Linked DNA regions of Homo sapiens: region 2 is linked to region 1. The links come from fine-mapping of genetic effects on gene expression. A gene starts in region 1. The other region holds a variant in brackets. All regions are shown on one strand. Distances are between the middles of the regions. Region 1 holds the start of P2RX2 (purinergic receptor P2X 2). Region 2 holds the start of LOC124903062 (a long non-coding RNA gene).

Evidence for each region. PIP is the estimated chance that this variant, and not a neighbour inherited with it, causes the effect. A credible set is the group of variants that fine-mapping cannot tell apart.
Region 2: its variant is the best candidate, but not a certain one, in a credible set for the expression of P2RX2 in unexposed skin (GTEx, PIP 0.57).

The regions. Positions count from the first base shown.
Region 1 is chr12:132,616,375-132,620,754 of GRCh38, reverse strand. P2RX2 (purinergic receptor P2X 2) reads right to left here and starts at 1,979. Exons shown (of 11, transcript NM_170682.4): 1 at 1,766-1,979; 2 at 1,181-1,316; 3 at 1,005-1,076; 4 at 836-911; 5 at 659-755; 6 at 408-488; 7 at 172-310. The coding sequence starts at 1,938.
Region 2 is chr12:132,590,382-132,594,761 of GRCh38, reverse strand. It overlaps LOC124903062 (a long non-coding RNA gene), which reads left to right and starts at 298. Exons shown (of 2, transcript XR_007063549.1): 1 at 298-1,421; 2 at 1,589-1,731. RefSeq lists an enhancer at 585-634. The variant A/G (reference allele first, on the strand shown) is at 2,609.

The DNA of each region.
Region 1 (4,380 bases):
AATAATTCAGCAAGCGCCACACCGGATGGGTTGCGCTGATCGCATTTCTTTTCCTCTGCCTGAGCGGGGCCAGCTGGTCAGGAGGGAGGAGGGACTGGTCCCCTGTACCCCAGGCCCTCTCTGTGCAGGTGGGAGCCCACCCTGGCCCCACCCTGCCTGCGCTTGCCCTGCCTTGTGTGCGAGCTCTGTGAAGCTCTCCCCAGCCTTCTCCACGATAAAGCCCAGCTTGAAGATGGGGCAGTAGAGGTCGGAGGCCTCGTGGAACGTGCAGCGCTTCAGGTACCCGTCTGTGCGGTCGGCGATGTTGCCCCTGAGGAGGCGGCAGGAGGCGAGACCTGCACCCCAAATACCCCATTCCCAGAAGGCAGCCCTCAGGCTGGGCCGTCACCACACCCCGCGGCTCTTACTTGGAGAAGTGGAATTTGGGGTAGTGGATGCTGTTCTTGATGAGGATGGTGAAATTTGGGGCCATCGTACCCAGAAATTGGCTGAGGAGGCACAGAAGGGTTGTTTAGTCCCCTCTTCCCGCAAAGCCCCCGCCTGGCATTGGCCCCCACCCCTCCCCAGATCTTGTCACTCCTGCCCCGCCCGTTTGGCCTCTGGTCAGGGGAAAAGGATCAGAGGGGAGGCTGGGCCCCAGGCCGGGGCGCAGGTGCACCTGACAGAGGCCCCATCTTCCACCGGGCACCAGCCGAACACCTCGCAGGTCTTGGAGGGCCCCTGGTAATAGGGCACACAGCGCCCAGTCCTCAGGCCTGGGAGGCAGAGGTCACTGAGGCATTAGCGGGGACGCAGCCCTGCCCCACCCGCCCAGCCCCAGCTGGCGCACACCGACCGTTTCCCAGCATGTCCAGCTCCCCAGCCACGCAGTCGGCGTCGGAGAGGCAGGTGGCGTTGTGGACCCTTATGCTCTAGGGTGGAGGCGGCCCAGTCAGGGACCCCGCAAGGGACAGCTGGCCCGCCTAGCTGAGGCGGGGTCCCCCAGCGCCGCGGGATCCCCTCACCTCGGGGCAGGTTCCCTGGGTCTGGGAGTGGGTGGCCTCGACCCTGGTGATGATGCTGAACACGCTGCCCCCCTGGGCTCAGAAAGAGGGGGCGGTCGGCCAGGCGGCAGCCGCTGCCCCCTCCGCCCACTAGGGTAGGGTGCACGGCGGGGCGGGGGGCAGGGGGCGGCCCGCACCTCGGGGGGCTTCACGTACTCCTCCACGTCCCACACTTTGTGCTCGGACGTGGTGATCCCCTTGACCTTGGTGATGATGGAGCTCTCGGGGCCCGTCTCGCTCTCCTGGTAGCTTTTCTGCACGATGAATACGTACCTGCGGGCAGGGGCGGCGCCGGCTCCGGAGGCGACCCTGGGAAGGCTGAGTCCCGCCCGCAGGCACGGCAGGGGCCCTCCCGCGACCCGGGTCCGCTCTGCGGGGCTCTTGGGGCCTGCCCCGCGCCCTCGGTCCCAGCCCCAGCCCCTGCCCCGCGCCCCCGGTCCCAGCCCCAGCCCCTGCCCCGCGCCCCTGGTCCCAGCCCCAGCCCCGCGCCTCCAGCCCAGCACCCCGAGTCCCAGCCCCTGCCCCACGCCCCCAGTCCCAGCCCCTGCCCCGCGCCCCCAATCCCAGCCCCTGCCCCGCGCCCCCGGTCCCAGCCCCAGCCCCTGCCCCGCGCCCCCGGTCCCAGCCCCAGCCCCAGCCCCGCGCCTCCAGCCCAGCGCCCCCAATCCCAGCCCCTCCCCTGCGCCCCGCACCCCGCGCCCCGCACCCCGCGCCCCGCGCACCACACGAAGTAGAGCAGGATGAGCAGCTGCACGGCGCGGTACAGGACCCCCAGGCGCCGGTTCCTCACCACGATCACCTTGGGCGTCTCGTAGTCCCAGAGGGCGGACCAGCAGCCCCGGGCCAGGCGCCGGGCGGTCGCCCCGGCGGGGTACTTGGGCTGGGCGGCGGCCATGGCGCGGGCGGCCCCCACCTCCAGGAAGGCGCTGCAGGGCTGAGGGTCGGCCCCGCTGCGCACCGAGAGCGGGGGGCGCGCGGCGGGCGGGTAGCTCGCGGCTCCGCCTCCGGGGTGCGGCCTCGAGCCCGCCCCGCCTCGCCCCGGCCCCGCCCCGCCCCGCAGGTGTCCCGGGAGTCCCGGGTGTCCCAGGTGGGGCTGGGAGCGGGGCCTCGCGGGGACAGAGCCGGGGGCGCGGCAGCCCAGCCCCAGCTCTTGGTCCAGGTGGGGGCCGAGCGCGGAACCGGCGGTCTCGAAGTTGGAGGGTCGGGATTCCCCGGGTGGGAACTTTTTCCGAGCTCGAGGAGAAAGACATGGGAAGTCCCGCCGGCCTCCGCGGCGCCCCCCACCCCGTCCAGGCCGGTTCCTGCCGCGGCTGCCGGGGCTTCGAGCGCAACCTGCACTCCCGCCTTTGCCAGCAGACGCCTCGCTTCCAGCTCCTGCCTCCGCCGCAGCTCCAGCCCTCGAGCTGGAGAGGGATCCACGGCCGATCCGTTTTCTTCTTTGCAAGCCAGAGTTTTCTTTCTTTCTTTCTTTCTTTTTTTTTTTTTTTGGTAACTTTTCGAACCTCCACCCCACCCACATTATTTTGAAGCAAATCCCAAGCATCACAGTTTTTCACAAAATAATTTTAAAATAGTTTATTATGATAAAATCAGCATAGCATGTAATTAACTATTTTAAAGTAAACAATTCAGTGACATTCACAACATTGTGCAACCACCACCGCCTCTGTTTCGTCCCCAAACACTTTCCCCACCCCAAAATAAAACTCCCATCCATTAAGCAGTCACGACCCGTTCCACACTCCTCCCATGCCCTGGCAACCACTGGTCGCTTTTCTGTCTCAGTGAATGGACTTGCCTGTTCTGGATATTTCATATCAAGGAAATGCAATATTTGTTTCTGGGTTAATGCCTTTTCTGTCTGGCTTCATTCACTGAGCATGTTTTCAAGGTTCATCCACATTGTAGCATGTGTCAGGGCATCACCCCTTCTTATGGCCAGGAGAAATGTCTAGGCTATCCAAAGAAGGAATTTAGATTGCTTTCAAACTAACTCTGTGAATAGTGCTGTTATAAACACTGGTGCATAAGTATTTGTTTGAACTGTTAAATTAACTCAATTAACAGGCTGCCTCTGTGCCTTGAGTTTCTAGGTAACAACAAACTGCAACCTAATGTACCACAGAAACAAGCTAAAAGCTTAACCTATGAGTATATTTTGGAACAAATAGCTGGGTCTCAGCCAGTCACAGGCTGCTAACTGATCTGATCATGCCATATAAGGCAAACATTTCAAGCAGTAACAAAATCAAGCTAATTGTGATTTTTTTTTTTTTGTATCTCACTTCTGTGTTCTATCTATAAAAACTTCCTGCCCACATTACAGAGTGGAGCTCTCGAACCTCCCCCATTGGTTCTGAGTGCTGCCCAATTCATGAGTTGTGTTTTGCTCAATTAAACTCTGTTGGCTGGGCACAGTGGCTCATACCTGTAATCCCAGCACTTTGGGAGGCCAACATGGGTGGATCACTTGAGATCAGGGGTTCGAGACCAGCCTGGCCAACATGGCGAAACCTCGTCTCCACTAAAAACACAAAAGTTAGCCAGGTGTTGTGGCATCTGTAATCTCAGCTACTCGGGAGGCTGAGGCAGGAGAATCACTGGAATCTGGGAGGTGGAGGTTGCAGTGAACTGAGATTGCACCACTGCACTCCAGCCTGCATGACAGAGGGAGACTCTGTCACACACACACACACACACACACACACACACACACACACACACAAACTCTTAAATTTAATTTGTCCAAAGTTTTTGTTTTAACAGTTTGGTGTCAGAAGTGGGATCTGAAGTAGACCTCCAGCCACCCCCTAGGAGCACTGAATGCTCAGTAGGGCCTGTGTGCCTGCTGATCTCTCAAAGCATCTAGAGTCATAGGTGAGTTCTCTCTGCTGGATTTGTGCTCTATGACCATGTGTTTTGAGCCCTCTACTTTGAGCAATTCTTTTTTTTTTTGAGATGGAGTCTCACTCTGTTGCCCAGGCTGGAGTGCGGTGGCGTGATCTCAGCTCACTGCAACCTCCGCCTCCCAGATTCAAGCAATTATCCTGTCTCAGCCTCCCAAGTAGCTGGGATTACAGGCACATGCCACCGCGCCCGGCTAATTTTTTTGTATTTTAGTGGAGACGGGGTTTCACTGTGTTGCCTGGGCTGGTCTCAAACTCCTGAGCTCAGGCAATCCACCTGCCTTGGCCTCCCAAAGTGCTGGGATTACAGGCATGAGCCACGGCGCCCGGCCTTGAGCAATTCTTAGACCGGAATGGGTCCAGGATTGAATTGGATCCAAAACTTAACTCTATTGTATCCAGTTAGAGGCCTTGAGTAGGTCCCTTTTGGC
Region 2 (4,380 bases), 26 kb after region 1:
TTTTTAAAATTTTAATATATATTTGTTTTTATTTTATTTTATTTGAGACAAGGTCTCGCTCTGTTGCCCAGGCTGGAGTGCAGTGGCACGATCTCGGCTCACTGCAACCTCTGTTTCCCAGGTTCAAGTGATTCTCCTGCCTCAGCCTCCCAAGTAGCTGGGATTACAGGCGCCCACCACCATGCCCAGCTACTTTTTGTATTTTTCGTAGAGATAGGGTTTCGCCATGTTGGCCAGGCTGGACTCGAACTCCTGACCTCAAGTCATCTGCCCGCCTCAGCTTCCCAAAGTGTTGGGATTACAGGCGTGAGCCACCGTGCTCGGCCCCTGAAGTTACTTTGATATTGACATAGTCACTGCAGGTTTTAAAAATTTTTGTTTGCATGGCATAGCTTTTCCTGTCCTTTTGACTTATTGGTGTCCATATCTAAAGTGCATTTCTCATGAGCAGTTTAGCGTTGGGTTTTGCTGTCCTACCCTCCCTGGCAATCTCTGCTCTTAACTGGGGCTGTCTGACCACTTGCTCCGGTGTGGCTGTGGCTGCGTGGAGGCCACGCCTGCTGTCCTGCTCTGTTCCCATTGGTCTCAGTGTGCAGTTGCCACGCCCACCTTCCTGTTCTCTGCTCCCTTTGGTCTCACTATGCAGAGGCCACGCCTGCCATCCTGTTCTCTGCTCCCATTGGTCTCACTGTGTAGAGGCCACGCCCGCCGTCCTGCTCTCTGCTCCCGCTGCTGTCACCGGCTCTCCCTTTCCCATTTCCTCTTCCTTCCTTGGATTCTGTTTGATGATCCTGTTTGATTGCAGTTGTTGGCTTATGAGCCAGAATTTTGTTTTGTTGTTTTAGTGGTTGCTTCAGGGTTCACAGTAAACATCTTTAACTCACACGGTGAACCTTTTTGAGTGGGGCTGCACCTCCACCAGGGCAGATGCTCCGCAGCGCACGTCACCCACCCTCTCCCCGCCGGGGCCATCGCCGCAGGGCGGTTCCCTGGTGACTGCACTCCGCGCGGGTGCCATTGGTATGGTCTGGGTTGAACACTCTGATATTTCACCTGAAAGGCAGGTGCCCCAGCCCCGGGAGGCCCTCCTCAAGCCCTTGCCTGCTCTGGGACCCCTGGCTGCGGGCTGACCCTGAAGGGGCATCTTGAGGCCAGGACTGGACCTGGCAAGGCCCCGGCCGAGGTCACGGCTCGAGTGTGACTGTGAACTTGGACATCTGACCCCAAAGCTCACTCCTGGGACAAACCCAAGAGAATCGGAAACAGACGTCACACAAATTGTTGTCCACAGATGTTCAAAGCAGACTCTTCATAGCTGCTCAGGTGTCCACAAACGATCGACAGATAAGCCCAGCGTGGCCCTCCACACCAGGGAACAGGATTCCACCAGGAAAAGAATGAGGCCCGCACGGCTGCAGGGGGTGAGCCTGGAGAATGGCGATGGGGGACAGAAGCCAGACACACAGCCCCGACTGTGAGCTTCCGTTTCTATGCAGGCCCAGAACAGGCGGGTCCGGAGGCGGGAGGAGGCCCGGGTTGCCAGGGCGGCGGTGGGAGAGATGCTCACGGGGAGGGAGTTCTCTTCCAGGTGGAGAGCGTTTGGAACCAGACGGGAGTGAGGGTCACTCAACATCGCAAATGGACTAAATGCTACCGAATTGTACGCTTTAAAACGGTTCATTTTATGTGATGTGAATTTCAGCTCAATAAAGAAAAAAGATTTAAAATGTGTCTTGAGGAGCCACGAGCATCTGTACCAGGGAGGTGGAATTGTGTCAGGAAGGCTGAGGCCTGGAGATGAGCAAGGGTTGGGGCAAATCCTGGAGATAAATGTGTTATTTCTGCAACTTAAATAGGGGCAGGCTTGTGCTATGAACTCTAAATACTCGCTGCAGCTGCAGGACGGCTGCTGTGCTCCAGAAATCTCAGCCGCATCCAAGACAGGAAGGGGCCGGGAGGGCTGCGTGGTCGGCTGAGCGACGGCACGGAGACGCATCCCCGCCGTGGAACCTGGGAGTGCTGCCACATGTGGTAACAGGAGCTTCGCAGGTGTAAGTAAGTTAAGGGTCTTGAGATGGAGAGGCGAGTCTGCACTTCCAGGAGGCCCTAAGTGCAGTCAGGCGCCGGTAGGATGCAGGCAGTGGGGGCAGGAAGCTCGAATCGGGGACCTGAGGGCGCAGCCAGGAGAGGCGAGAAGAGGCCGCACAGCTTGTCTGCCCGCCCCCTTCCTCCCGCTCGCCTTCCCTTCCTGGACAATTTCGTCCTGAGACCTTTGCATGAGGCTGAGCATCCTCACGGGCCGTGGGGAGCCAGGGGTTGGGAGTACAGCATGGACCCTGCGCCGGCTTGGGGTGGCCGGGGCCGAGCAGAGGGCAGGCGCTGTGCCGGGTGGGCGGCCCCGGGTGGGTGCTGGGCTCAGGTGAGGAGTAGGGGCATCTGCAAGGGGAGCAGGCGGGCTCCCCGCCGTGGGGAAGCCAGTGGATGCCAGGAGCACGGGATGAGCCCTGTGCGGTCGGACTGGAATTCCAGGGTTTTCTTTTTTTTCTTTTTTTGAGATGGAGTCTCGCTCTGTCGCCCAGGCTGGAGTGCAGTGGCGCGATCTCGGCTC[A/G]CTGCAAGTTCCACCTCCCGTGTTCAAGCCATTCTCCTGCCTCGGCCTCCCCAGTAGCTGGGACCACAGGCGCCCGCCACCACACCCGGATAATTTTTTTTTTTTTTTGTATTTTTAGTGGAGACGGGATTTCACCATGTTGGCCAGGATGGTCTTGATCTCCTGACCTCGTGATCTGCCCGTCTCGGCCTCCCAAAGTGCTGGGATTACAGGCGTGAGCTGCCGCGCCTGGCCTGGAATTCCAGGGTTTTCAACACACCTTGGTGGTTTTGGAAGTAAATAAATATAGATGTGAAGAAACACAGGTAACTTTCCCAAGAGCACGAGGCACACACGACACCCAGGCTGAGCCTCCAGGGCTCCGGGAGATGGGGCCGGGCAGGGAGCGCCTGGTGCGTGGGGGCCCCGGAGGTCAGGGGCTGTGAGTGGGGACGGGCACGCGCAGGAAGCCACTGGCCTCGCCCCTGGACATCACGCTCAGGGGAAGGCCCAGCTGCGCTGATGTAATTGATGCGTGCAGGGAACGTTTGAGGGGAAAGAGGTTTCATATGGGTTCAGGCATCTTCCCCTCAATGCTCAATTACAAAACCGGGGGCAGGTGGCTGAGTGCAGGTCGGGACCAACGCCTGATGGGACAAGCTGGCATCGGGCGCTGCCGGCGGCTTCGAGGATCCCCAGCAATTCTACGTATTTCCACTCCAATGCCCACGCTCCGGAGAAAGCCAGTGAGGGCGTCCCCGAATTGCGGTCCAGAACCTTCTGCGCACCAAGGTTGTGAGAGTCCCTGAGAGGCGGGGCGGGCTCTCCCAGGAGGAAGCAGCGTGAATGCTGAGGCCCTGCACCAGGCAGGGAGCTGTGCTGCTCGTTGATGCTGGGGGGCTGCGGTGTGGACTGGGACGGACAGCCTGCCTGCCGGAACGGACAGAAGGTGCCGAGAGCGAAGGTGGAGGGTTACCAGCTCGCTCTGAGGTCAGGAAAGAGTTATGTGAACGGCGCTTGCAACTTTTCAAGCTGAAATTTTTAAAATAACAAATACAAGTTACAGATAAGCACCGTTTCTGAACCCACAGTTCCACGTTGGAGAATCAAATCCCACAAAAAATGTTTGTCCCAGAAGGTGCAGTTTGATAGACAAGACTTAATCCACGAACCGGACACAGCCACAGGGGCTGGCATCATGGAGCACCCGCGGTTCTTCCTGGAGCATGAGGAGTCCAGCTCCCTCGGACGGTTCCACAGCACAGGTAGTGTCCCCAGAGGGAGTGGCTGCTTTCCTGATCACTCATGGATTCTTTTGCTTGTGACAAGGAACATGCATCAGTCCTATAATTTCTTTTTCTAAAATCTAGGCTGGCGCAGTGGCTCACGCCTGTACTCCCAGGACTTTGGGAGGCCAGGGTGGGTGGATCACCTGAGGTCAGAAGTTTGAGACCAGCCTGGCCAACATGGCAAAACCCTGTCTCTATTAAAAAATACAAAATTAGGCCGGGTGTGGTGGCTCACGCCTGTAATCCCAGCACTTTGAGAGGCCGAGGCTGGCGGATCATGAGGTTAGGAGGTGGAGACCATCCTGGCCAACATGGTGAAACCCCGTCTCTAATAAAATACAAAAAATTAGCCAGGCGTGGTGGTGGGCACCTGTAATCTCAGCTACTGCCTGTAATCTCAGCTACTTGGGAGGCTGAGGCAGGAGAATCGCTTGAATGTGGGAGGCGGAGGTTGCAGTGAGCCGAGATTGCGCCACTGCACTCCAGCCGGGGTGACAGGGCGAG